Regions from separate parts of the Homo sapiens genome. Here region 2 is linked to region 1. The links come from fine-mapping of genetic effects on gene expression. A gene starts in region 1. The other region holds a variant in brackets. All regions are shown on one strand. Distances are from middle to middle.

Region 1 (16,283 bases):
CAAAGAAATGGGGATCAGGGATTTGGGGATGCAGATATGAGGTTGCCTGAAGGACAGAGTCATGGTGACAGAGGAAGCTGAGGAGAGAGAGAGAAGGATTGGAGCCAAACTTTCTGTGCCAAATTAAGGACTTAATACTTTAGTCTGTTCGCAAAGGGTTTTAAGCGGAGAAATGACATAACCAGCTTTAAGATTACAGCAGGTCAGACTCCCTAAGAAACGGTCTCTGAAACTCTGTGATTTGCATGCCGGAATTCATATGGGGAATAATTTTGGGGACAATATCTGTAAGGAAGCGAAGAGAAGCAGGGAGGGAAGAAGAAACACTGGGCTGCCATGCAATATATATGTTTTTTTTTTTTCCTGGTTCCCATTCCCCGTCCTTGGGGTTGTATACAAACCCATAAACAATGGGGAAGAGCCTCTGGTCTTTGGTGCTGGTGGCTGCCACGCCTGGTCATCCTAGCCCACAGGCCCATGTAGTCCATTCACAGACCTGAAGTCTCATGCCTCTGAGTCAGATCTGGCCTCAGGATTGTCTGTCCAGAATCCTAACCTGGGCTTTCTGAAGTCCAGCTCTCCTGGGCACACATACTTCTTATGGTTCTGTATACAAGTGAGTCATTGACAAAACCTGCAGTGTGTGTGAACCCACTGGTAACTCATTTTTTTGAGACAGGGTCTCACTCTGTCGCTAATTTTTAACAAATTATTTTTCTAGAGAGGAGATCTGGCTACATTGGCTATGCTGGTCTCCAATTCCTGGCCTCAAGTGATCCTCCTACCTTAGCCTTCCAATGTGCTGGGATTATGGGCATGAGCCACTGCACCCAGACATGCAATGGTTCTTCAAGTATGGATCCTGGACCAACAGCAGCACCTGAGAAATGCTTTTAAAGTTTGTCAGGTAGCCCTAATTTACTGTTTTTATATCTAGAATCTCCACCTTACAATCTTGTTAACAACCTCCACCTCCTGGGCTTAAGCAATTCTCCTGCCTCAGCCTCCTGAGTAGCTGGGATTACAGGCACACGCCACCACACATGGCTAATTTTTATATTTTGAGTAGAGACGGGGTTTCACCATGTTGGCCAGGCTGGTCTCGAACTCCTGACCTCAAATAATCCACCTCCCTCAGCCGCCCAAAGTCCTAGGATTACATGTGTGAGCCACCACATCCAGCCTAAACTCTACTAAAAGTAAGTTTCTAGTTAATTCTTAAGAGAAATTACCAATCTAATCTCTCAACTAGCTGAGAAAGGATTCTTGGAGCAGGTAGAATTTAAGGAGTTCAAGGGCAGAATCTTCTGACCCTTCTCCTTCCTACAGGCTGGGGGATCACCAGAGCTAGGCTGAAATCCTGGTGATTTTGGGAATGTAGATCATGCATGACCAAGCAACAGGATGGAAGGAGCCTGAGGCCCAGGCCTCACCCTGGGCAAACTGATCCTGGACCACCTATATCCAGACATTCTTAAATAAAATAAGCTTGAATCATCTTGTTTAGGCCTGTTGTCTTAGTGTTCTCTCATTCACTAAGAAGTTATCCCAACTAACATTAATAATACCAATAGTAGCACATATTGTATGACTAGGCAAGAGACTCTCACCATAATAACAGAAGAATTAGATACCCACATTCTGTGCAGCCTTGGAGTTCAGTTTTAAATGTAATCAGAAAGTGACTGCTATTACCATTTGTGGCATAAAATAAAATGTGAACATGATAGCTAACAAACATTCACCTCCCTTCTCTCATGTGTTATGTGAGAAGAGAGGGCCCCAGGGAAAGAAACACATGGGACTCTTAGCTAGGTAGGACTGTGTGTTCTGTGAGTGCCATCAACACAACATTATACATGCAGGGCCACACTGGAAACCCAATTTCCTATTTTACACTTCAACTTTATTAAGTATTTTTCTCTTTTGTTTAAATAGCAAAAGTTGACACCTTAACAGGTAATTCCTAATGCACAAAAAGTTCCTTCTCCAGAAGATAGATATAAAAATTGTGAAAAATCTATTCATAGGGGCAAATGTAACTATTAAAAATCATGAATTCATGTACAACATTAATGAATTTCTGGGCAAAGCTGTTCATTTTGCAGGTTTTATGATCATTCTTAAGCTGGAGGCTTAAATGATCAAGCTCTTCACTTAAGAGTCATCATAAACTCAAGGGCCTTCAGGAGCCAGGCAGATAGGTTAAATAATACCCAGTTGGGGTTACAGGAAAATGTGGAACATCTGTGCCTTTGAACCAGGCAGCCTCATTCCAATAATAAATGCCCTGAGTGAGTGGGGGAACAACACTGTCAGAGCTTCTGATTTTTCAGAAAAAGCCAAAATACTTGTGATATGGTTAGGTTTTGTGTTCCTACCCAAATCTTATCTTGAATTATAATCCCCATGTGTCAAGGGAGAGACCAGGTAGAGGTAATGGAATCATGGGGACAGTTTCCCTCATGCTGTCCTCCTGATAGTGGGTGAGTTCTCACGAGATCTGATGGTTTTATAAAGGGCTCTTCCCCTTCGTTCAGCACTTCTTCCTGCTGCTTATGAAGAAGGTTCTTGCTTCCCCTTCTCTTTCTGCCATGACTGTAAGTTTTCTGAGGCCTCCCCAGCCATGCAGAACTGTGAGTCAATTAAGCCTCTTTCCTTTATACATTACCCAGTCTCAGGCAGTTCTTTATAGCATCCTGAAAATGTACTAATACAACTTGCTTTTTAAATGTGTTTTCTGATATTCATTTCAAAATTTAAAAAACACAATATGAATCAGACCAAACACCTCTGAGAGCTGAGTGCCACCTTCCACTTAAACTCTAAATGCAATTAGACTTGAGTTTGCAAAATCAGATTTTAAAATTTTACTTTGTCATTAATATAACTGCCTTAATGGATTAAAAATGGCCTGAACCAAACATGAAGGATGGAAAATAAATGACAATTTGTCAAGCAGAGAAGGAACCTGCTGAATTAATTGCCAAGGGGAGAAATTACAGGCCTTTAGAGGCAGATAGAACTTAACTGGGATAAACTTCAGAGAAGTTGTGACTTTGTTTTCACAGGCCATTAAGGTCTTGGGGACATCCATGAGTTTTGGCGACAACAGTAATGACTTTTGACTCCTAGATTCTACCCACCCATCACCCCATTGGGTGGATGACCTTCCTTCTTCAACTGGATTAAAGAAATTTGTAAAATTCCTTTTTATTGTGCCAGAAACTGTGCTTGGTATTAAGAACACAAAGTTGAGTAAATCGGTGTCTGTCTTCAAAGGATTCATAGCTGAGGGGGGGCAAAAGAAGCATAAACAATTATAATATGTGTTACTCAATCTAAGGTGCTACCAATTATAAGAAACCATTAGTTTTTTTTACCTCCTAAAATTAAACTATGATATTCTTCAATTTCAAGATGAATTCTAATTTCAGAGATACTTCAATGTTAAAAAAATAAGTGTGTTTAAGTGAAGAAATACTGTATGCGTTATAGGAGAAGTTGTGTTGAAGAACAGGGAGAAGAAATGATCTGACCACCTGGGCAAAGCAGGGAGATACAGTAAAGTTTGTAAGGGGGAGTCAGATTACTTTAAGCAATGTAACTATCTTAGTACGCTTGGGCTGAGGCTTAAACAATGGAATTTATTTTCTTACAGTTCTAGAGGCTGAAAAGTTCAATATCAATCAAGATCTTGCAGATTTGGTTCCTTGCTGAAGGCCTTCTTCCTGGCTTGCAGATGAGTGCCTTCTCACTGTGTCCTCACATTGTGGCGAGAGAGAACTCTGCTTCCTCTTTTTCTTATAAGAACACCAATCCTATTGGATTAGGGCCTCGTCCTTATGACCTTATTTAATCTCACCTCCTTAGTTCATTTGTCTTACTATAATAAAATACTATAGGTAATTTATAAACAAATTTACTTAGACACAGTTCTGGAGGCTGGGAAGTCTAAGATCAAGGCAGCAGCAGACTGCCTTGTCTGGTGAGGGCTGCTCTCTGCTTCCAAGATGGTGCCATGATGTTGCATCCTCCAGAGGGGAGAAACACTGTGTCCTCACATGGCAGACAAGAAAGGATGAACTCCCTCTATCATGCCTTTTGATAAGGCACCTAATCCCATTCACAAGGGCTCCACCCTCATGACTTAATCATCTCCTAAAGGTGGCTCCTCTTAATGCTATTACATTGGTTATTGAGTTTCAACACACATTTGGGAGGGGACACCAATATCTAAAGCATAGGACCTTCTAAAAACTCTGTCTCCAAATCCAGTCACACTGGGAGTTAGGACTTCAACACACAAACTGGGGGGTTGGGGGCAGAAGAGACACCATTCAGTCCACAGCAGTGACCCATGGCTTTGGGTCTCACTTTTTTCCCTCATATGCAAAATAAGATAATAATAGTAGCTACCTCATAGAGTTGTGAAGATTAAAAGATTTCATATGGAGTGCTCTGTGACGTCTTAGATCTAGTACCAGTTTAGTAAAGGCTGGCTGTTATCAGCAGAGGTAATTAATGATAGAATTTGAACTCCAAGAATCAGTAGACCTTCGCCAAGGGCTAAGAAAGCAAGCAGATTCCAGGGAAGAACAGAATGCCTAAAGGACTGTTTCTGGAACATTCTGCCTGTCTGCTATGATGTCTTGATGTAGTTGGCGAGGTTTTTTTCCCTTGAGGAATTAAAAATCTTTTTTTTTTTTTTTTTGAGACAAAGTGTCACTCTGTCACCCAGGCTGGAGTGCAGTGGCATAATTATGGCTCACTGCAACTTCAACCTTCCTAGGTTCAAGTGATCCTCCTGCCTCCACCTTCCAAGTAACTGGAACCACAGGTGCACACCATCATGCCCGGCTAATTTTTGTATTTTTTGTAGAGATGGGGTTTGCCCAGGCTGGTCTTGAACTCCCGGTCTCAAGCTATCTGCCTGCCTAGGACTCTCAAAGTGCTGGGATTACAGGCATGATCACCGTGCCTGGCCAGAAATCTTTTTGGTATCTTTTCTCCTGTACCTTCTTCCCTGTTCTCCAATCCCAATACACGCACAAGGACAGTTTGGTTCTTTCCGTTTTACAGTCAGAAGCATGCTCCAGGCCCTGTACTCAAATCAAGAACTGGGCTTCTCAGAACAAGGACACAGGTTCCTTGTCTTTCCATTTCCCTCCTCGCTTCCCTCCACCCCTTCTTGTTGGGGACAGCCTTTGTCTAACATCCTTTGTTTAAGAGAATTAATTGCTATCCCCCAGTGGCTGTCAGTGTCTTTCAGGAGACCTCATGTAAATAAGGCTCCAGGTGGCCTGCTCTGATTTCCGAGTTACCAGAGGGATAACATCCTGTTAGGACATTCATCAAGGATAACATTTAGTGAGGCCCAGAGCAGTGACTCATGCCTGTAATCCCAGCACTCTGGGAGGCCCAGGCGAGAGGATTGCTTGAGGCTAGGAGTTCGAGACCAGTCTGGGAAACACAGCCAGATGTCATCTCTATGAAAAGTAAAAATAACCAGATGTGGTTGTGCATGCCTGCAGTCCCAGCTACTCAGGAGGTTGAGGTGGGAGAATCCCTTGAGCCTAGGAGTTCAAGGTTATAGTGAGCTATGGTCTTTCCATTGTACTCCAGCCTGGGCAAGAGCCTGTCTCAAAAATAAATAAGTAATATTTAGTAAGTCTAACCCCATTTGAGGCTTGCAGAAGTTACTGGACTTGCCATAAAGTACCCAGTTAATAACAGAGCTGGCCCTGTTCAGTGCTTTACTATGTTATGCTGCATTGCCATTCAAAATGACTTGTCTCCTAAAGGAATTTTCTCATCAGAATTATTTCTATTGACAGTATCCCCTTTTTAGAAAATAACTAGCATCTTGAGTAAGAAAGCTACCCAGTCTTTGAATTCGAGTTCATCCATCCATTCACCACGCATTCCTCTACACATATTAACTGATAATCTATTTGGGATACTACATGTAGAGGATTCGAGGTTAAGACTCACATTTCCCCTATTCTCACAGAGCTTACAGTCTAGGAGAAGAAGCAATTAAAATAATTTGCAATGCAGAGAGCCAAAGCTGCTTAGGGAAGGCTTCTCAGAGTCAGTTCCTGCAAAGTAGAGACCTAAAGGATTGGGGAGAATTAGCTAAGTAAAATGATGAGGGAAGGGAGGTGATAAAATGAGATGAAATACTGTGCAAACTGTGTAACTGCAGACTTGTAAGACTGTTATTAAACAGACATCCCTCCAGAGCTCTCCAATCTCTGTCCCAGGTCTTCTTCCAGCAAAGTCTCTATCTCTGCTCCTTTGGCAGAATAAGCCCCCTTTTAACCTGTGTAACTCTTGTTTTATAGATGGTTATTTTGTTGTTATTAGTATATTCTTGGGTTTGAGTTGGAGACAAGGGCCTATCTCTAATCAGGAGTGACCTGATTTTTATGTCAATTACCTGGGAAGAGATCATCAAACCAGATCCTGGGACTTAAGAGAGGAATGTAAGGGGATTGCAGAATGGGATTTTGTTTCCCTTGGTCTTGATCCTGAAGGATAAATGATGCATGTTAGTTAGGCAAGGCGTGGTTATAATAGTGTTTTTCAAATTTTTTTTGATTGAAATCCATAGTATGAAATACATTTAACGTTGCAACCCAGAATACACACATGTGGCTGAAAGTTTCCCCTAATTTGTGTTGGGAAAAAAATACCCTTATTACATGTGATACAATCTGATATTTTGTATTTTGGATTCTGATTAGTGTTTTTCTGAGTAGCTACCCTTTAACCGATCACAAAATCAACTTACTGGGTCATGATGACCACCTTAAAAAATCAAATAAAAGCAGTCATGCAAAGATGGGATGGAAAACAGTGAAGAAGATACCCATACACTGTGGTCAGTATTTTAGAGCTAAGTCCATATTTTGGACTTCCTAAGTCCCTCTGTTTCTTGCATAATTTGTGCCTGGTTGTATGAAACTTGAGACAGATTAGTGGTTATGGCTGTGGGTTCTGAAGTATGAAGTCTGGAATCTTGACTGTGTTACTCAGCAGCTGTGTGACATGGGCACTTAACCTACTTACCTTGTGTTTAAAATGGGGATAGTAACAGTTCTTATCTAGTTGCAAGAATTCAAGGAAATAATGCAATGCTTGGCACAGAATCAATACTCAGGAAATATTAGGAATTATATTTCTTTCACTTTTATTTTCCCCATACATTAAGTACTCTGTTTTGTCTTAATTCAGCTTTTCTTAGCTTGCTAAGCAGGACCAAGGGAAGAGATGTGTGTATTGACATAGAGGGCTCTGGAAGCCAGATTGCTATGGGCAGCAGATATCAAAGAGAAAGAATCACAAGGGGGAACTGAAAGCCCAAGGGCCATAGTGGAGGGCCTCAGTGCTTCCAGTGCTAAACCTCCAAGGTCCAGGGTTTTATTTTCTTTAAAAAAGCAGATCCTCTCTTTAATAACAACACTTTTGGCCCTAGCTTCTCACTTCCTGTCTAGGTCAAATTCCAGTTTGTTACAGAAAGTTGACTGAACGTGAGTGGTATTTTCCCACAAATTTCTACTTGACATTCCTTGAGACTGTGATCCTTGCTTGGGTACCTTTACTGTTGGCCATCTTTTGTTCACTGCGTTTACTTTTTTCCTGCATCTAGCAAAACAACGACTTTTTTTTTTGAATACCTGAGATTTCAAGAGAAAGTATACTGAACAATACGATGAGAAGACTATATTCTACAATGCCATCTTTCAGAGGCAAAAGTATCTATAGTAAAAACATTTGATACATTTGGTGTATGCTTCTTACCCATTTCCACTCCAAAAAATAACAGATGACATGTACCTGTGAAACACTCCCATAAGGTATACCTAGAAACTCACTTAAAAAAATTACGATTTTTAGAAATGATATATATAAAACATTTTATAAGCATGTAAACTATTAACAATTTAAAGGTTTCTTAAAATTGTTTTGCAAGGAAAAACATAAATATCACTGTTTTAAAAATATGCAGGACTTTAAAAAATGTTAATTTTTCTATACCTCTGCTCTACAGAAAAACCTTATTGTTACAATTATGGTACAGCCTTTACAAATTTCTTTTACATCATTTGATAATAACTAATATTCAGATAAAATATACAAATATTTTTTCAAATCAGAACATTTAAAAACACTGACGTAGATTTTTCTGGAATAATAAACGTTTTTATTTTTAACCAGCTCAGATCTCGAATTAAAGCCTAATATTCCCATCATCACTCTTTCCTGTAAAAATAAGACAGCACTTTCAATGAGAGTGGAAATAAACCATTGTTTCAGGTTTTACTTACAACTGGAGCTGCCTTGCAAAATCCCTGCCCTGGCCATCTGCCGTGGTTCCAAATAAGTTTGTAAAAGTGAATCTTGCCATTTTCAATACTTCCTCCTTTGGGTCTATTTATTCCGAAGTCTGTTTTTCTCATTCTTTTAATTTTTTTCCCCCCAAGACGGATTTGTCTGAGACACTTTTTTGCCATAACATTTGTTTTTTCTGCTTACGAGAGTGTAAGAATTCCACAAGCCAAATGTTAATATTTTGTTGTCAGTTCTTTAAGCCTTCATTTTTTCCGTCTATCGAGCCCTTTTTTTTAACCAGAACTCATTGCTTCTGAGAGTATAAAAGAGCAAAGAGGCCGGGCGCGGCGGCTCACACCTGTAATCCCAGCACCTTGAGAGGCCGAGGCGGGCGGATCACGAGGTCAAGAGATGGAGACCATCCTGGCCAACATGGTGAAACCCTGTCTCTACTAAAACATAAAAATTAGCCGGCTGTGGTGGCGCGCGCCTGTAATCCCAGCTACTCAGGAGGCTGAGGCAAGAAAATCGTTTGAACCCGGGAGGCAGGGGGTACTGTGAGTTGAGATCGCGCCACTGCACTCCAGCCTGGGAGACAGAGAAACACTCTGTCTCAAAAAAAAAAAAAAAAAAAAGTGGGGAGCAGAGAGCCGGACTTGGACACGGGAAGGTATCGTGACATGAGTGGGTCGGGGGCTGGAAAGTTTGCCCAGGCGAAGAAGTGAACATGTTTATCCGGATCACCGTTTGTTAAATGAACAGCAACCCATAGGTAGCTTCACCGAGCCGAAACGGGAAAGGCGGCAGGCAAGGGAGAAGCTAAAATCTGCAAGAAACGGGCTGGGCTGGAGGCGGCGCCAGGGCAAGAAGGGCAGGTGGGGGCCCGCGGGAGCCGGGAGCCAGGGGCGGGAGCCGGAAGGGCGGGACCCAGGGGCAAGGCCTAAGTGGGCGTGGGAGGGGCATAGTCAAGAGATGGGCGGGGACTGCTCGGGGTCTGGGCGGAGTCTAGCGGGAGCCGCGTCGAGCCGGGGAGGAGCGAGGGACCCTGGGAGAGCTGTCTTTTCAGGGCTGAGGACCCGCCAGCACCTGATGGAGAGCAAATGGCTGTTTCCACACGTGGAGAACTTTTAACGAACACGTGAGGAAGGCGGGCAATGTCTGTGGAAAAACTACCTCACAACCCAGGCGTCTTACTCCAGCCCCCAGGGCGACAGCTTGTTTACAGTATTTCTGAAGGTCTCCGTCCCCTTTTGTCGGCCCCTCCTCCTCCTCTAACCCCGACTTCAGGCTTTGAGTGAGGCTTTGGTAGAGCAGTCGCCGCCGCAGGCGCCCCGGTCGGCGAAGCCCACAGGCATGCGGGCGCAGAGGCCGTCTGCGCCTGCGCGGGGTGTCTGCTACGGGGAGGTGCGTGGAGCTCGAGGGCGTGGAGCTCGGGGGCGTGTCTCCCGCCGCGGCGCCGGGGCGGGGCGAGGGCGGAGCCTGGGGGCCCAGCGGCCCGCGCCCCGTGGCTTGACCTCCCCGACTGCTGGGCCCGTGACGTCACCCCGCTGTGACGCGCACGCTGTAGGAAAACTGTAAGTTTACGAGGATTCCTGCAGCTCCTAGGGCTTGCGGGGCCCGCTGGCAGCTGGCAGTCCCGGCGGTGGTGGTGGCTCTGGGGGCGTCAGTTCCTTGGGGAGTCGCCGATTGTGGCGAAGGGACAGGTGTCTGCTCAGAGTGGCAGCGCGCCCTGCTGGGCGGTAGGGACCTGGGGTGCGGGAGGCGAGGCCGCGCCCCGTGGGGCCGGGCCAGCACCTTTTCCCCTGGGGCGGGGCGCGTCTCCGAGCCTGGGAGCGAGGCCTTAGAAGGGGCGGAAAGTCCAAATGGAGAGTCCCTTTTTTTCTTCCGTGATAAAGGGACTTAGATTCCTTTTCTTCCCCCTCTCAGCCTTGGAGTTTGACATGTTAAGTAGGGGATGGAAGCTTCCTCTCAGAGAATAGGAATCCTATGTCCTGGCCGTTGGGATCCCACAAGTGACCAAGTCATCGTGGACACATTTATAAGATAACCAGTTGCTGCCTCAGTTTTCTTTTTTGTGTAAAAGGGAGGTACAGCAGCCTCTGGCCTCCCTAATGGTTGTTCCCACAGCACTAGGAACACGTGAGATAACACAAGTGTGTAAATTTGCTAGGAGAAAGCTTATACACAGACACTTGGTTATTCTGAGGAATGTGGTAGCCACTGGCTATTTGACCAGGAATCTTGTAGAAGGGGAACTTTTTCACTGTTTTGCCTCCCCCCGACAACCTTCCCTCCATCTGATTCTATACCACACTGGAGCCTGTTGGGTGATCGAACTGTTGTCACTAAACTTGATAGAATGGGGATCCCAAGAAATAACAGGTATCGTTAGCACGGTACTCTTGGCAATTACAATGCCCCCGTTGTCTGGGTTTTGCAGAGGAAGCTTTCAGTGTGCTGGAACTAGCACATTATAGACAACACAGACTCACTGAGTTTTAAGGATTGCTGTATCGATTTGGAATATCCAATCATCGTATCTGACTGCTTGAATATTTTGGTCAAGGGGTACTACATTATCGATTAGTTATTACTAGACTATAATGCCTCTCAAACTCCGGGACTAGTAGTCTTCAGGAACTTTGAAGGGAAGAATACTGTGCACACTTCAGGGTGTATTTATACAGGAGCTCGAGAGTTCACATTTCTGTAAATTCATTTCAGGAGTGTGATATCTTTTCATCCAGGTAGGAAGAGCCTTTGAATCAGAAAGCAGGGCTTCTAATTTTTGTTCTATTCGTTAACTAGCTTCGTGTCCAAGGACAAGTCACGCAAACTTGGAACTTTGTTTTTCTTATCTAAAATGAGAGCCGATGGTTTATCTGTTTGTTGGTTTTTCCAGGATCAAATGAGATCACGAGAGTGCAAATGAAAGGCTAAGTGTGCTATTGTTATTAGGAGATTCGCATTGGTCCCCTAGCCTGGATGAGATGTGAGTCAGAAATCTCTGGAAATAGAGCAGCAAAGAAGACAGCCTCCAACCTAGCAGGGCTCATATTGCAGTGGGAAATAGACAACGAACAATACGTGCATAATGTAATTTCAGGTAGTCATAAGTGCAGTGAAGGGAAGGAAGAAAGGAGGACAGTGGGGGAACAGGGAAGGTTGTTTTTGGTGGGATCTGTCAGGAAAAGCCATTCAAAGGCAGGGACACTTGAAGTGTGAGGGAAAGAGCCTGAGGTAAGAACATTTCAGAGAGGAATAATTAATAGCAATGAACACTTAAAAAAAGTAGAGCTTACCATATGTAAGGCACTATTCTGAACACTAAATTAAATTTTTACAAGTCTTTTGATGTAACCTAGTATCTCCCTTTCATAGATGAGGCAACTGACACACAGAAAGGTTAAGAATTTGCCAAAGTTGCACAGCTAAAACGTGGTAGAGACTATTTGAACGTGGGCAGTCTGACTTCAGAGTCCAGGCTCCAGGTGACTGTATTTTCGGCCTCACAGCAGGAACAGCACAGGACAATGCTCTGAGGTGGTCCAGACACAGTGAGAGTGTTTAGAGCACAGCCGGGAACGGGGAAAGTAGTGGCCAATGATGGTCAAGGGCCAGGCAGGCCGTGGGGTCCCTTGTAGGCTGTGGTGAAGTAAAGATGTTGTTCTAACTGTGATGGAAAACCATTGGAAGGTTTGCATCAAGGGACTGGTGTCTGATTTAAGTTTTATTGTATGGAGAATTAACTGTAGATTAGAGTGGGTCGGATGGAGTGAAAATCGGGAGAAAGCTGCTGTGCCCTGCAGGTGAAATGATGGTGGTTTGGGCTGGGGGAGGTTAGTTGTGGAGATGATGGTAGGCGGTAGAATTGGTGATACGTTTTGAAGGTAGAGCTGACGGGAAACGAGCTGATGTGGAATTTGAAGAAAAGGGAGAAGTGATGATTTTTTAGGTTTAGGCTGGAACAACTAGAAGTATAGTGGTGCTGTTTACTGAGGAAAATTACAAATTTAGTTTTGCACAAGTTCTAAATGCCTGTTAGACATAGTCATAACAACAGTGCTAGTAAAAATAGTATTATGTAAGCGTAAACTGAGTCCCAGGCAGGGTTTTAAGTACTTTAACCTATATTAATTCATTTAATCATCATAAGAATTATATGTGCAAGGAACCATTATTGTCCCCATTTTACAGCACGAGAAAATAGAGGCAAAAAGAGGTTATAAGTGACTTGTCTGAAGTCACCCAGCTGGTGAGTGATGTAGCTAGGATTCAAACCTAAGCATTGTGGCTTTGGAGTCCATGCATTGAATCCCTGTAACCACCTCCGAGTGAACATGTTGAGTATGCATGCCTGTGAATATGGAACTCAGGGGAGTGGTCAGGGTTGGAGATACCCATTTATTTTTCTGAAGAGAAAGCATGCTTTTGTTTTTCATCTAAGCTTTGGTTGTCTGTGGGAGAAAGATTATAGGCAGTGGGACTGTGCTAACTGGTCTTTGATTACGACCTGACTGGGTTCATGCAGCCAGTATCTGGTATTCCCCACTGTAGGTTCCGTAGGGGCAAGGTCTGTCTCTTTGACTTCTCTATCTCTAGTCCCTAATCCAGTGCCTGCTGTGTAGTAGATGTTAGGGATGACTTTATATAATGGGCATTTGGTTAGGTTTTGGAAGTTCAGAGATGAATAAAACAGTTCTTTACCTTAGAGGAGCAGGGTATGAGGAAAAACCTGTGGGAATAAAATTAGAGTAGACTAAATGCATAAATACATGCCGATTAGTTCATTTGGGTTTTCTGCACCCTCCCCTCCCCAGCTTCCATGACTTGTGAGATGGGGCATGAAAAGGGCAAAGGGGCAAAAGAATGCCTAAGCTGTTGCAGGATGAAGTTGAGGCTCCCCAAGAGTCCTTTTCAACAAAAGAATTACTCAAAATCATGCATATTTTACTATATTTGCATTAGCTTTATTTGGCAATGATAGAATTTTTACCAAATGAAATAAATTCTGATATTTGACTGTCCTTTTGAAGTGATGAGTTTTTCCAGTTCTATTACCTCAGTGTTGACAGGGCTCACCAGAGAAATAAGGGAGTTGGCTTGAAATGTTGCAGCTTGCATAATAGAGGGTGATGGAGGGGTTGGGTGAAGTATTCAGGCAGGTTTCCACCGGTTTAAGTGTGTCATGCCAAAGTTCCACCTATTGGAATAAGTTTGAGTTTCTTTGCTGACCATCTCTAACATTGACATGTATTTTTTTTTTGTCATAGAAAGGGGATCTGGTGATATATATTGTAGGTGGAATTGCAGATTACATCTCGTATAGCTGGATCATTGTAGAACATGGAGACTAGAAAAATACAAACAAAAAAAGATGTGTCTTGTTCCCGTAGATCTTTCATGGCATACCATAACCTCAACAGTTGTCACAATTTTGTTACTTCCTAACATGAGTATTTCAAATTTAAACCATGTAAGAATTATATAAAATTGCACTGCCGTAGATTTTATGGTTAATTTCAGAATTTTTAAAAATATATAAAATTATATTTTGTTTTAAGCTTTCATTGGGAAAGTATCTAAATAACCAGATCTATGATTACTCTAAACAGAAGCCCTCTACTAACGTAAATGTAGAGGGGTGCCATCTCATTTTGCAGTTCACAACGTTTTAAATCTGCTCTTGTAGCTTCCCTACATTTAATGGAGTTGAAATGATTAGTCTTTATTTACACCACATTTGCAGTTAGTTTCCCAGGAACATCAGATACCCATATATGGTATAAAGTAAAATTGCATAGTCAATAGCCTATTGATGCTCAGGTGTTATTGACTTTTAAGTTCAGGCACAGTGAGGGCAGGTTGATGGTTATTTAATTGTGTCAGGTAGCTCCCAGCAGAGGGGGAGTGATGGTAAGTTCTATCTGAAAACAACAGGACCCTCTGTTTCTAACACTGACCATGCGAAATATAACATCCTAGATAGTAAATAAAATTCAGATTCCTTTTAAAATTTACATTTGCACAAGCAAATTTTAAACTATTTTATGAGTACTTTTATATATATGAAGATTTATTGTTGAAAACAGTGTGTCTAGCCCAGTGATAGTACATACTGAGCATTTAAATATAATTCTTTTTTTAATTAAATTTATTTTTTAAATTATACTTTAAGTTCTAGGGTACATGAGCACAACATGCAGGTTTGTTACATATGTATACATGTCCCATGTTGGTGTGCTGCACCCATTAACTCGTCATTTACATTAGGTATGTCTCCTAATGCTATCCCTTCCCCCTCCCCCGACCCCACGACAGGCACTGGTATGTGATGGTCCCCACCCTGTGTCCAAGTGTTCTCATTGTTCAATTCCCACCTGTGAGTGAGAACATGTGGTGTGTGGTTTTCTGTCCTTGTGAAAGTTTGCTCAGAATGATGGTTTCCAGCTTCATCCATGTCTCTACAAAGGACATGAACTCATCCTTTTTTTATGGCTGCATAGTATTCCATGGTGTATATGTGCCACATTTTCTTAATCCAGTCTATCATTGATGGACATTTGGGTTGGTTCCAAGTCTTTGCTATTGTGAATAGTGCCACAATAAACATACGTGTGCATGTCTCTTTATGGCAGCATGATTTATAGTCCTTTGGGTATATACCCAGTCATGGGATGGCTGGGCCAAATGGTATTTCTAGTTCTAGATCCTTGAGGAATCGCCACACTGTCTTCCACAGTGTTTGAACTAGTTTACAGTCCCACCAACAATGTAAAAGTGTTCCTATTTCTCCACATCCTCTCCAGCACCTGTTGTTTCCTGACTTTTTAATGATCGCCAATCTAACTGGTGTGAAATGGTATCTCATTGTGGTTTTGATTTGCATTTCTCTGATGGCCAGTGATGATGAGCATTTTTTCATGTGTCTGTTGGCTGCATAAATGTCTTCTTTTGAGAAGTGTCTGTTCATATCCTTTGCACACTTGTTGATGGGGTTGTTTGATTTTTTCTTGTAAATTTGTTTAAGTTCTTTGTAGATTGTGGATATTAGCCCTTTGTCAGATGGGTAGATTGCAAAAATTTTCTCCCATTCTGTAGGTTGCCTGTTCACTCTTTATGGTAGTTTCTTTTGCTGTGCAGAAGCTCTTTAGTTTAATTAGATCCCATTTGTCAGTTTTGGCTTTTGTTGCCATTGCTTTTGGTGTTTTAGACATGAAGTCCTTGCCCATGCCTATGTCCTGAATGGTATTGCCTAGGTTTTCTTCCAGGGTTTTTATGGTTTTAGGTCTAACATGTAAGTCTTTAATCCATCTTGAATTAATTTTGGTATAAAGTGTAAGGAAGGAATCCAGTTTCAGCTTTCTCAATATGGCTAGCCAGTTTTCCCAGCACCGTTTATTAAATAGGGAATCCTTTCCCCATTTCTTGTTTTTGTCAAAATTCTACTTCTTGCAATCACTTTTATTTTTGCATTATTATCTTCAACTCATATATATTTGTAGTAGTAGCTGGATGCTTGTTTGTGTACTTTACACTCTAAATGTTTGAATATATTTAAATAATTTATATAAGTAGCACTTATTTTTGCTTCATTTCACATTTGGTTGCTTAAAAATTAAAATCTTTAGGTTTGATTTTAACACATTACACTAATGGCTAATAATTAGTAAGTCTAGGTGGAGACTAAGCTTTAGTGACAGGTTAACCAAGTTTTAACCCCAAAAGAACACCCAGAAGAAAATTCTTAGGGAATAGTAAGCAAAACCAGTATGTCGATGAAAGGAATAATTTAACCATAACTACGTAGCTATTATTCTTCAAGTTGTTACTATTCTACAGGGAGTATTTTCTTATTTGGTTCTTCAATTGCAAAGCTATTAATTTCAGTCTGCATTGCAAGCCACCAAGCAGTGTGAAATAAATACTGGAAGATGATACTGTGA
Region 2 (16,283 bases), 39 kb after region 1:
GAAGTTAGTCAAAAGGCTATACATTCCAGGCCCTTAAAGAAAACCTGCATTACTTGTTTGGGGACTTAGAAGGTATCTACTAGTACTTTAAATTAGCATCTATGTTTATTGCTGATACATCCCATAAATGTTTTCTGTCCATGTTATGTACCTTAATATACTACTTTGTAATTCTTTTGTAGGGGTCATAGCCATTTCAGGGCCATCTCTAAAGACACTGCAAAGGACACATGCTCTAGCTGCTCTCTTCTCCGTATTGTTATATAAGGGAACCTGAATTAAAATGAATTAAGAGTTTGGATGAAAGGGCATTCCCTAGCCATCTTAGCAAAGGGAGTGGGAGTAGGATTGGAAGAGGGAGGATAATGGCCTGTATGTGAATGTTTATGCACATCATGTTTTTTAAATCAGGTCTAGCTAGTATCAAGAGCTAAATATTTTTTAATCGTATTTTTGAAAAGTAGTAGAAAATAGAACAATATTCAGATTTGTGAAGGATTGATGACTCAGTATTAGAGGGAAAACTCACCAAGGAAAAGATCTAATAGTTTTGAACATATAAAATGTAAGGTTTATTTACAATGAAAAAAATCACACAACACACTGGAGGAAATGCTTGTATCAAATGTGACTAAGGGTGAATATCTATAATATCTGAAGAGGAAGTTCTCTCGAACTTAATGAAGAAGTTTTAATACATAAGTAAACAAAGTATTTTAGCAGTTAATGATTAATAAAAAGGTGGGATTATGTTTACCGTCACTGGTAATCAAAGAAATGCCTTTTAAGTTAACCTTGAGTTATCTCTTCTATTCTTTCGAAAATACTGAAAATTAAAATAACTGACAATTCTGGAGAGGCTTTAAGGAAATGGACCCATTCAGTCTTATGTGTTTCTTGTGCTACTCCCAGCCACTGCCTTTCCCTGAACATGCTGTGCCATTTTAAATTCTTACGTCTCATCTTTATGAGTCCTTCCCCTCTTCTTTCTGTTGACTTTCCATCTCTTGAGAGCAGCATTCAGATCCTGGGGGCATCCCTTCTTACTCAGCCCTGCCAATGAGCACTCTGATTTGCATTCGGCACTGTATTGCAGCCATGGGTGTATGAATCAGTCCCTACCACTTGGCTGGGGAGTTCTTGAGGTTGGGACTGGTCAGGCCCTGCATCAGGGTCTGGTATACAAGTAATTATTCAATAACTATTGAACTAAATTATTGGATTTTGGTGAATGTTTTAATGAACTACAATATGTTAGGGTGATGGAATAACATGATCACTAAAGTGCAATTATAAGTGTAACTTATGGCAAAATTTTGTAACCAAATACAGAATGATATGTTTAGTGTAATTTCAACTGCATTAGAAAGGTAATATGCAGAAAATGAATTTTTAAATATTTTAAAGTTATAGGTAACAAACTTTTATTTCTTTATTACAATCTTTATGATACAATATATAATTTTTAAAATCAGTTGGCACACTTGACCTCCCTCTCTTCTCATCAGAATTAACCTCTCTGTGTCCTGTCCAATTATCTGATTGAACTCTCAGGAAATAGGGTGGGCCTCCCCAGAATGTGGGCTTTTAAGGATAGCTGCATTTATGTGACTGAATTAGGTCCCCAAGCATTTTTTGAGCTTTTACTGTGCCTGGGTGCATATAACTTGAAAGATATGGTACTTAGTATTTTATAGTTTGTAAATACATTCACATTATCAGCGATGAGTTCTACAGCTTTTAATAATGTCAAATATAAATGGTAGTTGTTTTTTTAAAACATTTTTTGAGTATCTACCATCTGCCAATGACTGAAATACAGAATTCCTTTAAGGAAGTCCTTGTCTGACAGGAAAGACAGACATCCATGGGCCTTTCATACAGCAAGATGAGTGTTGTAATCGTGTTGTAATGAGTGCAATGGGTTGTAGAGTGAATGGAGAAGCAGTTATTTCTTAAGAGGGCTGGTGAGATGAGATGACTGTTCTCTGGTAAGATAACTCTCGAACAGGACTTTAGAAGATGGGCAAGATTTTTGCAAGATGGATAGGAGAAAAGGGGAAAAGCATGAACAGAAAGGTAGAAGTGTAGAAATACATGATGTCTTCAGAAGCCACTAAAAGATTTTGGAGAGGGATATGACATGATTAGGTTTGTATTTGGAAAGAAAATTGAGATCAGTGATTATAACAAGGAAACACAAGAAAAGTTTTTTTTTTTTTTGCATGCTTTTCTATGTGACAATTTTGTGAGCATCCCCAGATTTTAAATTGTAACATAGATAGGACAGGCTTTACATTATGCACAGTTCTGGCCAGCCAACCATATGCCCTCTCATAGCTGTACATCAGAGTGTCCCTTCTAAAAGTCTGGGTGAACAGTGGGCTACAGGAATGAGGTCAGCTAAGAAGCCATTGCAGTGTTCCACATCACCACAGGAAGTGATGGCTTAATCAGGGCCATGATAACAGAAATGGATGGGAGGGAATATATTTGCCTATGTAGACTTGGTATCAGAGTTTTGTGGGGGTAGAGAGAAAAAGGAATTATACATCAGTGTTTCTCAGATTTTAATGTGCATGTGAATTGTCTAGGGATTTTGTTAAAAGGTAGATTTTGATTCAATAGGTCTGGCAGTGGGGCCTCAGATTCTGCTCCCAAGTGATGCCAACACTGTTAGGCCATGGTCCAGTGAATAATTAACAAGGACGAGATAACGTGGGTGTGAGACTCCGCTGGCTAGATGGTGATGTCATTATCTGAAATACCTGAAATGGGGAATACCAGAGAAAAGAAAGCTTGGGCAGGGGGATGGGGTGAAGTTTTTGTGGGACATTCAGGTATAAAAATTGTAGACAGCTGAAAGTTTGGATTCTAAGCTTGAGAGAAAAATCAAGCATAGAGACACAAATTTGGGAATAAGCATTTCGTTGCCGACATAAAAGTCATGAGAATGAGTGACATTACCTACAAAAAAGAGATAAAGTTAATATTAGAAAATATACCTATTCCTTCATCATTCAAAGGCCTCATCTTCTAAAAAGACAAATAAAGAAAATATACCTATTTGCTAAAATTTTAATGTCCATTTAAGTGACTATAAACCAGCAATGGGAAAGAAATTGGATAGGTAGCTTCCTCCCTATGAACAATCTCTAGGTGTAAATTGAGGGGAGGAGAAGTCTTCTTTGGAAACCCCCCCTTTTCCTTGGTAATGACCATAGATCAAGTTAAAAACGATTAAAGTATCTTATGAGAAATCATTCATATAAATAAATATGTGTAAAGAATCGTCAAAATGCCAGGCAGTCTTCTGACCTTAACATTAATAGCAAATGAAATGAATCCCTGAAACAGTGGAGCTTATGGGGGAGATTGACAAATGCTGTGTTAGGAAAGTATAGTGTCATGTGAGAGCACACACATCAGGAACACATGACTCAGTGTGGAGACAAGGGATGGCCTTCCTGAGGAAGTAGCATTAAGCTGAGACCAGAAGGCTGAGTGGTGGTGACCTACAAGAAGAAGAAGGGAAGGTCATAACAGTAATGACTTGGAGTGGAGAGGCCCTGCAGGTTGGAGAAGTTCAGTGTGGCTCACCATGGAGTGTCAGAGTGAGGGAGATGACTGCTGAGCTCCGAGAGGTGAACAGAGCCCCTGGTGAGGCCCACTCCTCTGGGACTTAGTAGAGAGAAGAGGGAGAAAATGATGTATTTTCCCAAGGAAAAACTGTTATTCTACTTTGGTATAGTTCAAACAACAGTCTTATGCATATGGTTTTACAAGGCTTTTATGGACTGGCCTAGTAATGACATGACTCATAGTAATGTTGTTTCTATAGGAAAAATGTTTTGGGCTTCAAAAGCTGTCTTACAATTTAACTTTCAGATTTTTTTTTTTCCATTTGGGAACCGCTTGGATAAGAGCACAATTCTAGTGTTTTTTGTTATTTCTGTTAAAAGTGTGCTTTCTCTGGTATGTATCTATGTGGCTACAGTGTTGATTTTCCGTCTTCTGATATGAATCAAAGCTATCATTGCACAGATGCAGTTGAAATGTTGTTTTATTTTCTTGACCAGATTCAGAAAGTGTATGGAAATAGAGAAATCTTTTTATAAATTGTTTAGTTTTCAAAGTGTTTGTTCTTCAAAGTTAAGGATTCCCTCTGTAAACTATATCATGGTATACTGTGTTATATACCATGAAAGTATGAAAAATGAAACTGCCATGAAAATTGTTATAAACAGAAAGTAAAAGAGATCGGTGTGTTTTCACTATTGAAGTCAAATAGAATGCAGAAGGTAAACAATAAAGGATAAAATACCTAGCTTTAAAAATACTTTAATAACCATGAGCTTATGATCATAATCGTCTTCATTACTAGCTATTGTTATCATTAGTAATACTTGATTTTTTTTTTTTTTTTTTTTTTTTTTTTTTTTTTTTTTTTTTTTTTTGAGACAGTCTCTCTCTGTCACCCAGGCTGGAGTGCAGGGGCGTGATCTCGGCTCACTGCAAGCTCCGCCTCTCGGGTTCACGCCATTCTCCTGCCTCAGCCTCCTGAGTAGCTGGGACTACAGGGGCCCGCCACCATGCCCGGCTAATTTTTTGTATTTTTCTTAGTAGAGACGGGGTTTCACTGTGTTAGCCAGGATGGTCTCAAACTCCTGACCTCATGATCCACCCGCCTCGGCCTCCCAAAGTGCTAGGATTACAGGCATGAGCCACTGCGCCCAGCCAATACTTGATATTTTAAAGCAAGAAACAGCAGCTGTTAAGGTCACTCCCTTTGTAAAATGGATCTATATGAGTTTCATTTTCTTTAATAAATGAAACTTTAGGCTGAAACTCTCAAATTCCCTTATCTCCAACATGCAAAGTTAATTTCATCCACATCTGTCTTGTGAAAGTATCTTTCTTTCTATATCAGTTAGAATGCTTTCAGCTGGTAAGTGACAGAGACCCAACTGAAAGTATCGTATGTAATAACTGCATTTTATTGTCTCATATAACTAGAAATCTGGAAGAAAGATAGTTTTTTTGTTGGCTTATATAGCAGCTAACTCTTATCATCAGACTCTCTGGCTCTGTCTTTTCATTCTACCATCCTGATAAGTTGGCTTTTGTCTTCAGACTTTTCCCCTCCTCATCTCAAGATGGCAGCTTTAACTCCAAGAATGACATACTCATATCAAAGCACCCATGACTGTAAGAAAAGAAGGTGTCTCTCTTATGTCTTTTTTTAAAATGAAGAAAACTTTCTTAGAAGCCTCCTAGAAAACATGACCTCATTAGCTAAAATTGCATCCTATACCCGTTTCTAAGCCAGTCAGTGGTGAGGGGTACGGAAGTCCTGTGTTTGGCTTAGACTAGTCAAGATTCATGGCCCTTCACTCCTCCCAAGGTAAAAAAAAAAAAAAAATAGGATTTTGTTATTCAGAAAGAAGGGAAGACTAGGTAGGCAACCACTAGTGTCTGCCGTATCTTCCAAGGCCAATTTATTTGCCTAGAGCTTTAATTCCTTTCTGCCTCTTAGAAGACTTTGTTAATAATTTCTTTTTGCGTTCATTTTCAGTCTTCTCATTCTTTTTCTTCAGGCTTATTGAAAGAAGAGTCTGCATATGCTGCCTTCATTTTTTTCCCCTCCCATTTATTCCTTAAATTCCTTGCAATCTGGATTTTGTTCCTCCTAATAAGAACCTTCCTTTCTATCAACAGCAATAACCACCTGATTCCCAAATCCTTTGCCAGTGTCTTTGTTTTCTGGATTTTCCATTCTCTGTTTCATTTGTTTGTACATTATTCTTTATTATTTCCTTCCGTCTGCTTGCTTAGGTTTAGTTTGCTTTTCTTTTTGTAGGTTCTGTCTTAAGGTGGAAGATTAGATTATCCACTTGAGATCTTTCTTTTTTAATATAGGCATTTATAGCTACAAATGTCTTTCTGGGTATTATTTTCTTTAGCTGTATCCAATAAATTTTGGTATGTTGAGTTTTAGTTCTCACTAATCTCAAGGTATTTTCTAATTTTCTCTCTGATTTCTTTGACCCATTGGTTATTTAGGAGTGTGGTTCCCTCCCATCTTTGTGAATTTCCTAAAATTCCTTCTGTTACTGATTTGTATTCTAATTGCATGCCATTGTTTCAGAGAACATTCTTTGTGTGATTAATCTCTTTAAATTATTGAAGGTTGTTTATGGCCTAGCATGTGGTCTCTTTTGGAAAATGTTTCATGTGCACTTAATAATGCATATTGCCTTGTTGAGTGGAGTGTTATATAGTTGTCTGTAGGTCTGGCTGTCTTACAGTGTTGTTCAAATCTTCTGTATTCTTGTTGATTTTCTTCCTGGTGGTTTTATCTAGTATTGAAAGAGGGAAGTCTCCAATTATTATTTTTCAATTGTGTATCCCTTCAACTGTCTTTTCTTCCTTCTCTTGTTAAGTGCATATATGCTTCTAATTGTTATACCTTCCTGATGGATTGACCCTTCTGTCATTATGAAGTGTTTCTCTTTATTTCTAGTATTATATTCTTGCTTTAAAATGTATTTTGCCTGATTCTTTTATGTTTACTGTTTGTATGGTATAGCTTTTACTTTCAACCTATTTGTATGATTGAACCTAAAATGTGTCTTCTGTAGATTTTATATAGTTGGGATCTTTGTTCTTTTTCTTTTATAAAAATACAGCCTGATAATCTTTCTTTTGATTAGATTGCTTCATCTGTTCACATTTAATGTGATTACTGATATAGTTGGATTTTTGTCTGCAGTTACGAATTTTGTTTTCTATAGGTCTCAGGTCTTTTTTGTTCTTTCCTTTCTTGCCTTCTTTTGAATTAAGTAGATATATTGTAGTGTGATGCTTTAATTCCTTTGCTACTTTTAAAAATATATATTTTGAGTTATTTTCTTAGTGGTTGCTCCAGGGTTTACAGTGTACATCCCGATTTATAAGAATTTCACTTCTGATTTATACTTACTTTCAGCAAAATAGACTTCCTCTGTTAGCTCCATTTCCTTCCCCAACTTTTTCTGCTATTATTGATGTACCTATTATGTCAAACCCAACAACACACTGTTGTAATTTTTACTTTATGTCTTTTGAAGAAGCTGAGACAAGGGAGAGCAAGTACGTATTTATAGTTAGTTGTATTGACCTCTCTATTTTTTATTTTCTTTACATATTTCTGCATATTTGAGTTAGCTCTGGGGTCATTTTCTTACTCCCGAAGAACTTTGTTCTCACCTGCTTCTTTTGTGCTGTTATTGTCTAAATGTATAGCAGTAAATGTTGTTAGCCCAATAATTAAATTATAGCTACAGTGTTTTATTGAATTATTCTTTAAATCAGTTAAGAGAAGAAAGGGGAAGAAATATGCAATTACAGTGTCTTTTGCAATAATGTACGTAATTTCCTTTACTGGCATGCTTTGTTTTTTGGGGCTTCCAATTACTGTTTGGTGTTACTTGCTTTTAGCCTGAAGAATTTCCTTTAGTATTTCTTGTGAAACAGATATTCTAGCAACAAATTTTCTGTCTTTATTTTTCTGGGGATGCCTTAATTTGACCTTTATTTTAAAAACACAGTATTGCTGGATATTAGAGTCATAATTCACAGTATTTTACTTTAGTACTTTGAATATTTAATTCCATTGCTTTCTGGCCTCCCTTGTTTCTAATGAGAAGTCAGCTGTTAATCGTATTGGGGGCTGCTTTGTACTTGTCTGGTCATTTTGCTCTTGCTGCTTTCAAGATTTTCTCCTTGTCTTTGGCTCTCAAGATTTTGCCTGTAATGTGTCTGGAAGTATATCTCTTTGTATTTATCCTATTTAGAATTTGTTGAGCTCCTTGGGGGATGTGTAGATTCATATTTCTTTTTCTTTTATCAAATTTGGAAAGATTTCAACCATTATTTATTTATTTTTTGTTCTTTTTCATTCATTTTTTTTTTTCCTCTCTCTGAGATAGGGTCTCACTCTCTCACCCAGGCTGGAGTATAGTGGCATGATCTCAGCTCACTGCAGGCTCTACCTCACTGCAGGCTTAAGCAGTCCTCCCACCTCAGCCTCCTGAGTAGCTGGAACTACAGGTGTGTTTCACCCTGCCTGGTTAATTTTTAATATTTTTTATAGAGACAGGGTCTCACCATGTTTCCTAGGCTGGTATCAAATTCCTGGGCTCAAGCAATCCTCCCACCTCGGCCTCCCAAGATGCTGGAGGTACAGATGTGAGCCGCCATGCCTAGCCTCATTATTTCTTTAAGTATTATTTCTGCCTCTTTTTTCTCCTAATGGCATCTGTTTTAGTCCATTTTCTGTTACTGTAACAGAATACCAAAGACCAATACCAATAAGGAAAAGAAATTTATTTCTTATGGTTCTGGAAGCTGAGAAGTCCAAGAGCATGGTGCGAGCCTCTGGTGAGGGCCTTCTTGCTGGTGGGAATTCTCTACAGAGTCCCAAGGTGGCACAGAGCATCACATGCTGAGAGGGCACATGAGTGAGAACAAAACTGGATTTTATAAACAGATGCACTCTTGTGATAGCTAGCCTACCTGCGTGATAACCCATTAATCCAGTAACTTATTAATCTACTAATCCATTCATGAGAGCAGAACCCTCATGACCCAGTCACCTCTTAAAAGTACTACTTCTCAATACTTCTGCATTCAGGACCAAGTTTCCAATACGGTGAACCTTTGGAGAACACATTTAAACCATAGCATTCCACCCTGGGCACCCAAAATTTATGTCCTTCTGGTGTTTAAGAATACATTCATTCCATCCCAGTAGCTCCAGAGTCTTCATTCATTCTATCATGCATTCAAAAGCCCAAAGTTCCAAGTCTCATGTAAATCAGATTTGAGTGAGACACATGGTGTTATTTGCCTTCAGGCAGATTCTTTTCAGCTGTGAGCCTGTTAAATCAAATAAGTTACCTACTTCCAAAATATAGTGGTGGAGCAGGCGTAGGACAGACATTGCCATTCCAAAAGGGAGGAACAGGAAAAAATTAAGGAGTAACAGATCCCATGTAAAACGAAAACCCAACAAGGAAAACAGCATTACATCTTACAGCTGGAGAATAATCTCCTTTGACTCCATGTCCTGCATCATGGGCACACGGGTGCAGGGTTGGGCCTCCAAGGCCTCAAGTGGTTCCACCCCGTGGCTTTACTATGCTCAGTCCATATGTCAGCCCTTGTAGGTTACAGTTGGGTGCCTGTGGCTTTCGCAGGTTGGACCTGCATGCTGGTGGTATAGTTCTGGGATCTCAGCAGCATTCCTGCTCCCACAGCTCCATTAGGCATTACTTTAGTGGGGACTCTGCTGCGGCCTTGCTTCTGGCTGCACTAGGCATTGCCCTACGAGGGGCTCTCAGCAATGAGTCTACCCTTGTTGACAAGTCTCTGCCAGGGCACCAGTCTTTTTGGTATATCCTTTGAAATCTAGGTGAAACTACCATAGCCCCACTTCTGTTACATTCTGTACAGCTGCAGAAT[T/C]AGCACCTTGTGGATGCCACCAAAATTTATAGCTTGTGCCTTCCAGAGTGGTGAGTTGAGCCACACTTGCTGCTACTTGGGTCATGACTGGGGCAGCCACAGAGCATTGCTGTGGGGTGCAGGGAGCAGAGTCCTGAGGCAGTCCTGGACAGCGGGCTGTGCAGAATGCCATGGATGCCATGGGCTCCCACAAAACCATTCTGCACTCCTAGGCCTCTGGGCCTCTGATGGGAGGAGCAGCTTTGAAGATGTGTGAAATGCCTTTTGGAGTCTTTCTCTAATTGTCCTGATGAATAGCCTCTGGGTCCCTTGTATCAATATGAATCTCTTTAGCAAATGGTTGCTAGGCCACATTCTTGGTTTCCTTTCCTAAACAAGCTTTTTAAATTCTACATAGCCAGCCTGAGGAGAGTTTTCCAAATCTTTCCACTTTGCTTTTCATTTGATTATAAATTCTGTCTTTGTCATCCCTTTGCTCCCAAATCTCACTGTAAGTAGCAAAAAGTAACCACACAGTATCTTGAATGTTTTGCTGCTAGAAATTTCTTCCACTCGATATGCTAGTTCATCACTCTCAAGTCCAGCATTCCACAAACCCCTAGGGCATGGACATAGCCTTGAGGCGTGTCAGGCTGTTTGCTGCTTTGTGACAAGTGTGGCCTTTATTCCAAGTTCTAGTACCTTGCTCCTCATTTCCATCTGAGGCCTCTTCAGAATGACCTTTACATATTTCTATCAACATTCTGGTCATGAGCACTTAAGTAATCTCTAAGAAGATTCAGGCTGGGCACGGTGGCTCACGCCTGTAATCCCTGCACTGTGGGAGGCCAAGGCAGGCAGATCACCTGAGGTTTGGTGTTTGAGACCAGCCTGGCCAACATGGCAGAACCCCTCCTCTAATAAAAATACAAAAATTAGTGGGGCTTGGTGGCGCATGCCTGTAATCCCAGCTACTTGGGAGGCTGAGGCAGGAGAATCACTTGAACCTGGAAGGTAGAGGTTGCAGTGAGCTGAGATTGCACCATTGCACTCCAACTTGGGCGACAGAGCAAGACTGTCTTAAAAAAAAAAAAAAAAGAAGATTCAGAGTTTCTCTAGTCATCTTCAGAACCTTCACCAGAATCACCCTTAATGCTCCATTTATGGCAATGCAGGTTTTTTTCTATCCAGCTCCTCCACAGTCTTCCAGCTTCTACCCGTTACCCAGTTCCAAAGCCACTTCTTCATTTTCAGATATTATAGCAAAAATCCTACGTCTTGGTACCAATTTTATGTCTCAGTCTGTTTCTGTTGCTATAACAGAATACCAAAAAATAAATTTATTTCTTACAGTGTATAGGCTGGGAAGTCCAAGAGTAAGGTACTAACATCTGGCAAGGGTCTTGCAGATGGCAAGAAGTTTGTTTTGCCCCATGTTCAGCCATAGATTAGTAGCTTGGATTATTCATTCCCAGTCACTCCTGAGCGAAGCAAGCCTTGAGCATGCCCACAGTCTAGTAAACTGCCAGGGATACTTTCATATTAAAGCCTGGCTTCCTAGGAGTTGATCTTGGGGCAGAAGAGCTTATTGTTCAGCCACTGTTTGATCAGAGGTTATACTTCAGCCCCCGAGTGACAGTGAAGCTTCCTTTTTTAATTGATCTGTGTGGCTTGTGCCCATATCAAGCTCTGATTGCTCAAGTGGATGCAGCCTCCCACTTGGGCACAGCCTTCCTGACCTCTGTGTTTACTGTGAGCTGGCTGTCTCTTTTTCTAGTTCTGTTAAACTTCTGATAGTCCTAATTTGTTGGTTGCTGCTTGTATCCTGGGGCCATGAGCACCTTCTTAACTATGTCAATTCCCTCAGACAGAGCAGAGGAACTTTTTGTCCTTAAGGGCTGCTGTCTCCAGTCTGCATCTCCCCACAGGTAGAACCTTGCACCACTGCACAGAAACTGGGGGCAGGAATAGTGACTCACTTCTTCCAGAGTGACACCCCTGCTATAAAAGGGTGTTGGGAGCATGGGCATTAGCCACTTGTCTTCTTGGCTTGCCCCTATGGATATGGAACCTTTGCCCCACCAGCAAGTTGATCCAGGAGTGATAGAAGCCCAGTGTTTTCAGCCTGCTGCACCTAGAGTAGAACTTTTGCCCCACAAATGAGGGCTGGCTAGAGTAAGGAAGCCCTGGCCCTCTCAGCTGTGCCTCTACAGAATAGAAACTCTACCATAGAGGGCTAGGGAAAATGAACAGTGCCAGTGGCTTGTTCTACCAGGGTGAAAATGCAGCCCCAGCTTGGGAGCTGAGGGGAAAAGGAGCCCCCATATTCTTGACCGGACCTTCTGGACTAGAGCTCTCGAGTAAGTAAAACAGACTAAGACATAAGTCAGAGCTTGGAGGTGCAGGGGAGGTAAGGTGGGAGCAGGTCATGGCTCAAATGCCACTGACAGGCTCTTACCAAGATTTAGAATATTTTCTTGAATGCATGTTTCTCCATTTATTATATACTCTTCAAACAATTTCCAGTTTAAGTGGTTGTTTTAAACAATTTTTTTTCCAGTTAAATTGTTTTTGTTGGGGAGAAATTCTATGGCACTCTTCATTCCTCCATTCTGGAAGTTGTCTCTTGGTTTTGCTCATTAAAAAAAAAAAGATATATCTTCAATCTCTCTTAATCTATACAGGTTACTTTATAGATTCTTAATCTTTACGTTCCTTCTCCATCCCTTTAAGTTTCATACAGTTTACCTGTTGAAGAACCTGGGAGGTTTGATCTGTAGAATTTCCCACATTCTGGATTTTAATGTGTGCGTATTTGTGGTGTAGATCCACACGTTTCTCTGACCTCTATAATTCCTATAAATTGGCAGCTGTCCATGAACTGGATCAGACTCAGATTTGATTCCTTTGGCAGTTCTATACATAGAATTTAATGAAGTTTAGGATACCTCTGAATCACCTGGTGGGCTTGTAATAATAAAATGCAGATTACTGGGTCCTATGCCCAAACCTTCTGATTCAGGAGATTGGAGGTTGGACCTGAGGGTTTGTATTTCTGGCAAGTATCTGAGTGAGGCTGAGGCTGCTGGTCTGGATAACCTACTGTCAATGTTTGGTTGCATCTTTTTTTGTGATCTTAGCAGCCATTTATGCATATTATTTGTATCTATTTGTTCATTAAGGTTTGAAAAATAGTAACATTCTAATTCTTTTTATTTTTTTCATTTATTCATTGGAATATTTTTATAAAGAGATACATGTCCTTATTTCTTATTCAGTTACCCAGAGTTCTCAAAAGACAGGTAACATAAATTCTTGATTTTTTCCCTTTGATATATTTCTTAAGATAATGAATTGGTTCTCTATCATCTCTTAAAGGTGACCAGTTTTTTAAGAATATTATTATGAACTTTTAGAATTTAACGTATTAGTTAATTCATTTCAAGTATTACCATCACTGAAGCTCAAATTATTCCATCTTTGGCCAATGGAAGCCTCTTAAACTTAGCTCCTGAGTCCTAGATTCAGCTATTTCTCTTAGAAGCCCTACTGTTTAAGGGGTGATCATGTTTTCTCTCAGCCCTTTCTGTAGACAGAGATCAGAAGTATGTGCACATATTGAAGATAAAATAAAAATATTTCATAAGTTTATATTGGTGTTTCCAATTCAAACTTGAGACTATGGTGGAGATGATAGTGTGTTTAAATCTTCTTTCTGTATCTCTTTCCTCTGTTTTCAAGGATATGAGTGCTTATAGAACTGGAAAGTCCTACAATTATGTATTTTCATCCTATAGTGCACACACAACAGTCTCAGAATGACAACACCACAATACTACTCAAAACATTAAAATCCATATTTTTGCATACATTCTCGCCCCCTTAATCACATTTAGGACTGGAGATGTCTTCTGAGACTTTAGTTTATTCAGCAACCATTTAGAGCATCTTCTCTGTCTCACACTCACTGCTAGAAAGGGGATACAAAGAGATGTAAGATATGTCCCTGTTCTCTGAAAGCTAAGGGTCAGGGTTATTGGGTTATGTATCATTCTGGTATAGGAAGATGTGGCCATAGAATCTGGGATTCTGTTCTTCTTTAAAAGAAGTTAATGCTAATGTTAATTCTTCTTTACTTGCATGTTTCTTAAAATAAAACCCTTTCTCTCTACTCTTATCAGGGAGCAGCTTCCTTTTGGTGGAGCTCCTTAAATACTTTCTAATCTCCCTTACGTAGTATATTATTAGTCAGGGTTCTCCAGAGAAACAGAGAGAGAACAAGAGAAAGATATAGAGTTTATTTTAAGGAATTGGCTCACAGGATTTTGGGAGTTGGCAAATCAAACATGTAGAATACAGCAGCAGGCTATATACTTAAGTAAGAGTTGGTAATGGTCTTGAGTGTAAAAATTGCAAAATAGGCTAGTAGGCTGGAAACTCAGCATTTCTATGTTACCATCTTGATGTAGACTTGCCTCTTTTTCAGGTAACTTTTATCTTAGCTGTTGAGGCCTTCATCTGATTGAATAAGGCCCACCACAGTATGGAGTCTGCTTTATTTCAAGTCAACTAATTATAAATGTTAATTACATCCACAGAGACCTTCACACAACATCTAGATTAGTGTTATACCAAACAGCTGGCCATCATAACCTATCCAAAGTGACTCATAAAATTAACTGTCACATCTAGGTTAACTGTTTATTGCCAAAATTGATATTCTTTCTAAAAAACTGTAAACTTATATAATTTTATTGCTTGACTGACAAATTGGTTTCATCATATTGGCGAACCTATAAAATAGTCCTATTAAGAAATTATTTTAAAAATAAAGTTATTTCTAAAACATATTAACATATAGCTATATTCATTAAAGCAAAACTGTTTTAACATTAAAAATAGCGTAAATATAATTCTCAGTAAAAGCTTACATTATTTAGTTTCTTAGCTATAATTTGTACTAATATATTTATTAGGTACAATAATTATAATCTTGTTATCTCTCTCTTTCTCTGGAGAACCCTGACTAATAATATACTACATAAGGGAGATTAGAAAGTACTAAGGAGCTCCACAGAATACAGCTCTCTGTATTTTCCTGGAAAAAAAATTTTAAAAATACGGTTGTATTTTATCTTTAATTGCTTCATAAAATTGTAGTCTTTTTCAGGTTGCATTTTGTGATTGCTACATTTGAAATTATTGATTTTTTTCAAGTTACTGTTTTCTATATAAATTGTGATTTTTAAATTTGAGAATGTAATCTCTATGTCGATAATGAGGTACCTGGTAAGTTCAAAGCAAATTCTATTAAATTTTATTTTGTAATAGTTTAATATGTAAATATTCTAGCACATACATTTTCAAAGCTACTATTAAAAAAAACAGTAAACTCGATTTACAGCACCTTTATTCAATAAAATTTTTATGACAAACTTGTCAAATAAATTGTGTCTATTATGGAAATCTTTTAAACATCTTAACCAAATTTAGATGCTGCTAAATTGTAGGCATTCTCAAGTTCATTTTATTCTAGTACATAATATAAACTTATTTAAGTAAAAAAGTAAGTTCGCCATAAAAATTAAATCTTGAATAAAAGATTTCTGTCTTAGTTTGGGCTGCTCTCTCAAAATATGACATACTGGGTGGCTTAAACAACAATTCATTTCTCCCGGTTCGGAAGGCTGGAAAGTCAAAGATCAAGGCACCAGCAGATCAGTTTCTGGTGAGGGCCTGCTTCTTGGTTTGCAGACCTGGTTTGATCTTCTCATTATGTCCTCACATGGCCCTTCCTGGGTGTGTGCACTTGGATGGGGGGTGGTGGGTGGGGAGAGAGAGAGAGATCTGTTTCTTTTTATAACAGCATTAATCTCATCAGGAGGGCCCCACCAACATGACCTAATCTAACGCTAATTAAAGGCACTACCTCTGAATACCATCACATTGGGTATTAGGGCTTCAGCATAAGAATTTAAGGTGACACAAACGTTTAGTCCATAGCTATTTTCAACTGACTTTGAATGTAATGTTTGAATGAAAATCATCCGTTATGTTGATGATTTTGCAAAGTCTAAGCCTCAAAGAATTCTAAGATAGATAACAAAAAGAAAACATGGACTATCATGCTGGAATTTTTTTTTTTTAATTCAGCATCAGCTTTGTCACAAATATTTTAGTTTTTTTTTTTTTTTTGAGACAGGGGTGTACTCTGTTGCCCAGGCTGAAGTGCAATGGTGTGATCACAGCTTACTTCAGCCTTGACCACCCAAGCTCAAGCAATCCTCCCATCTCGTCCTCCCAAAATGTTGGGATTGCAGGTGTGAGCCACCACACCCAGCCTTAGTTCAATTTTTTTAACCCTGTGTGTGTGTATAAACGTTTGTAAATTTTAATTGGTAGAATGTCACATCTTTTGTGGATTCAGTTGTAAAATATGTTTCCCCCAATTTTGATTGGTAATATATTGCAGTTTTGGGCACAGCTGTGAATTATATGTGAACCACAGCCAAGTCCAAGTTTATTTCTGTTTCACCATTTTTTAAATTTAGTAAGAACATTGTTCTTTCTATGATGCTGTACTCAACCAAGGTTTGTAATTGTGTTATCACTGTAAAAACAAATAGAATTGACCCTTATTATTCACAGATTTTGTTTTCATGAATTCGTCTGCTTACTACAGATTGAGCATCTCTGATCTAAAATCAGAAATGCTCTAAAATCCTAAACTTTTTGAGTGCCAACATGATGCTCAACACAATCCTCAAGGGTCATGCGCAAATGAAATACTCATGGGAGCA

The links.
Region 2: its variant is fine-mapped to the expression of ZNF438 in blood mononuclear cells (TOPMed, PIP 0.92).

The regions. Positions count from the first base shown.
Region 1 is chr10:31,025,461-31,041,743 of GRCh38, reverse strand. ZNF438 (zinc finger protein 438) reads left to right here and starts at 9,879. Exons shown (of 7, transcript NM_001143768.2): 1 at 9,879-9,911. LOC105376481 (a long non-coding RNA gene) reads right to left here and starts at 9,236. Exons shown (of 3, transcript XR_001747410.3): 1 at 6,443-9,236. RefSeq lists silencers at 2,417-2,617, 9,658-10,217.
Region 2 is chr10:30,986,715-31,002,997 of GRCh38, reverse strand. The region is part of intron 1 of ZNF438 (zinc finger protein 438); the gene reads left to right. Among named protein-coding and RNA genes, the nearest start is that of ZNF438, 37 kb to the left of the region's middle. The variant T/C (reference allele first, on the strand shown) is at 9,505.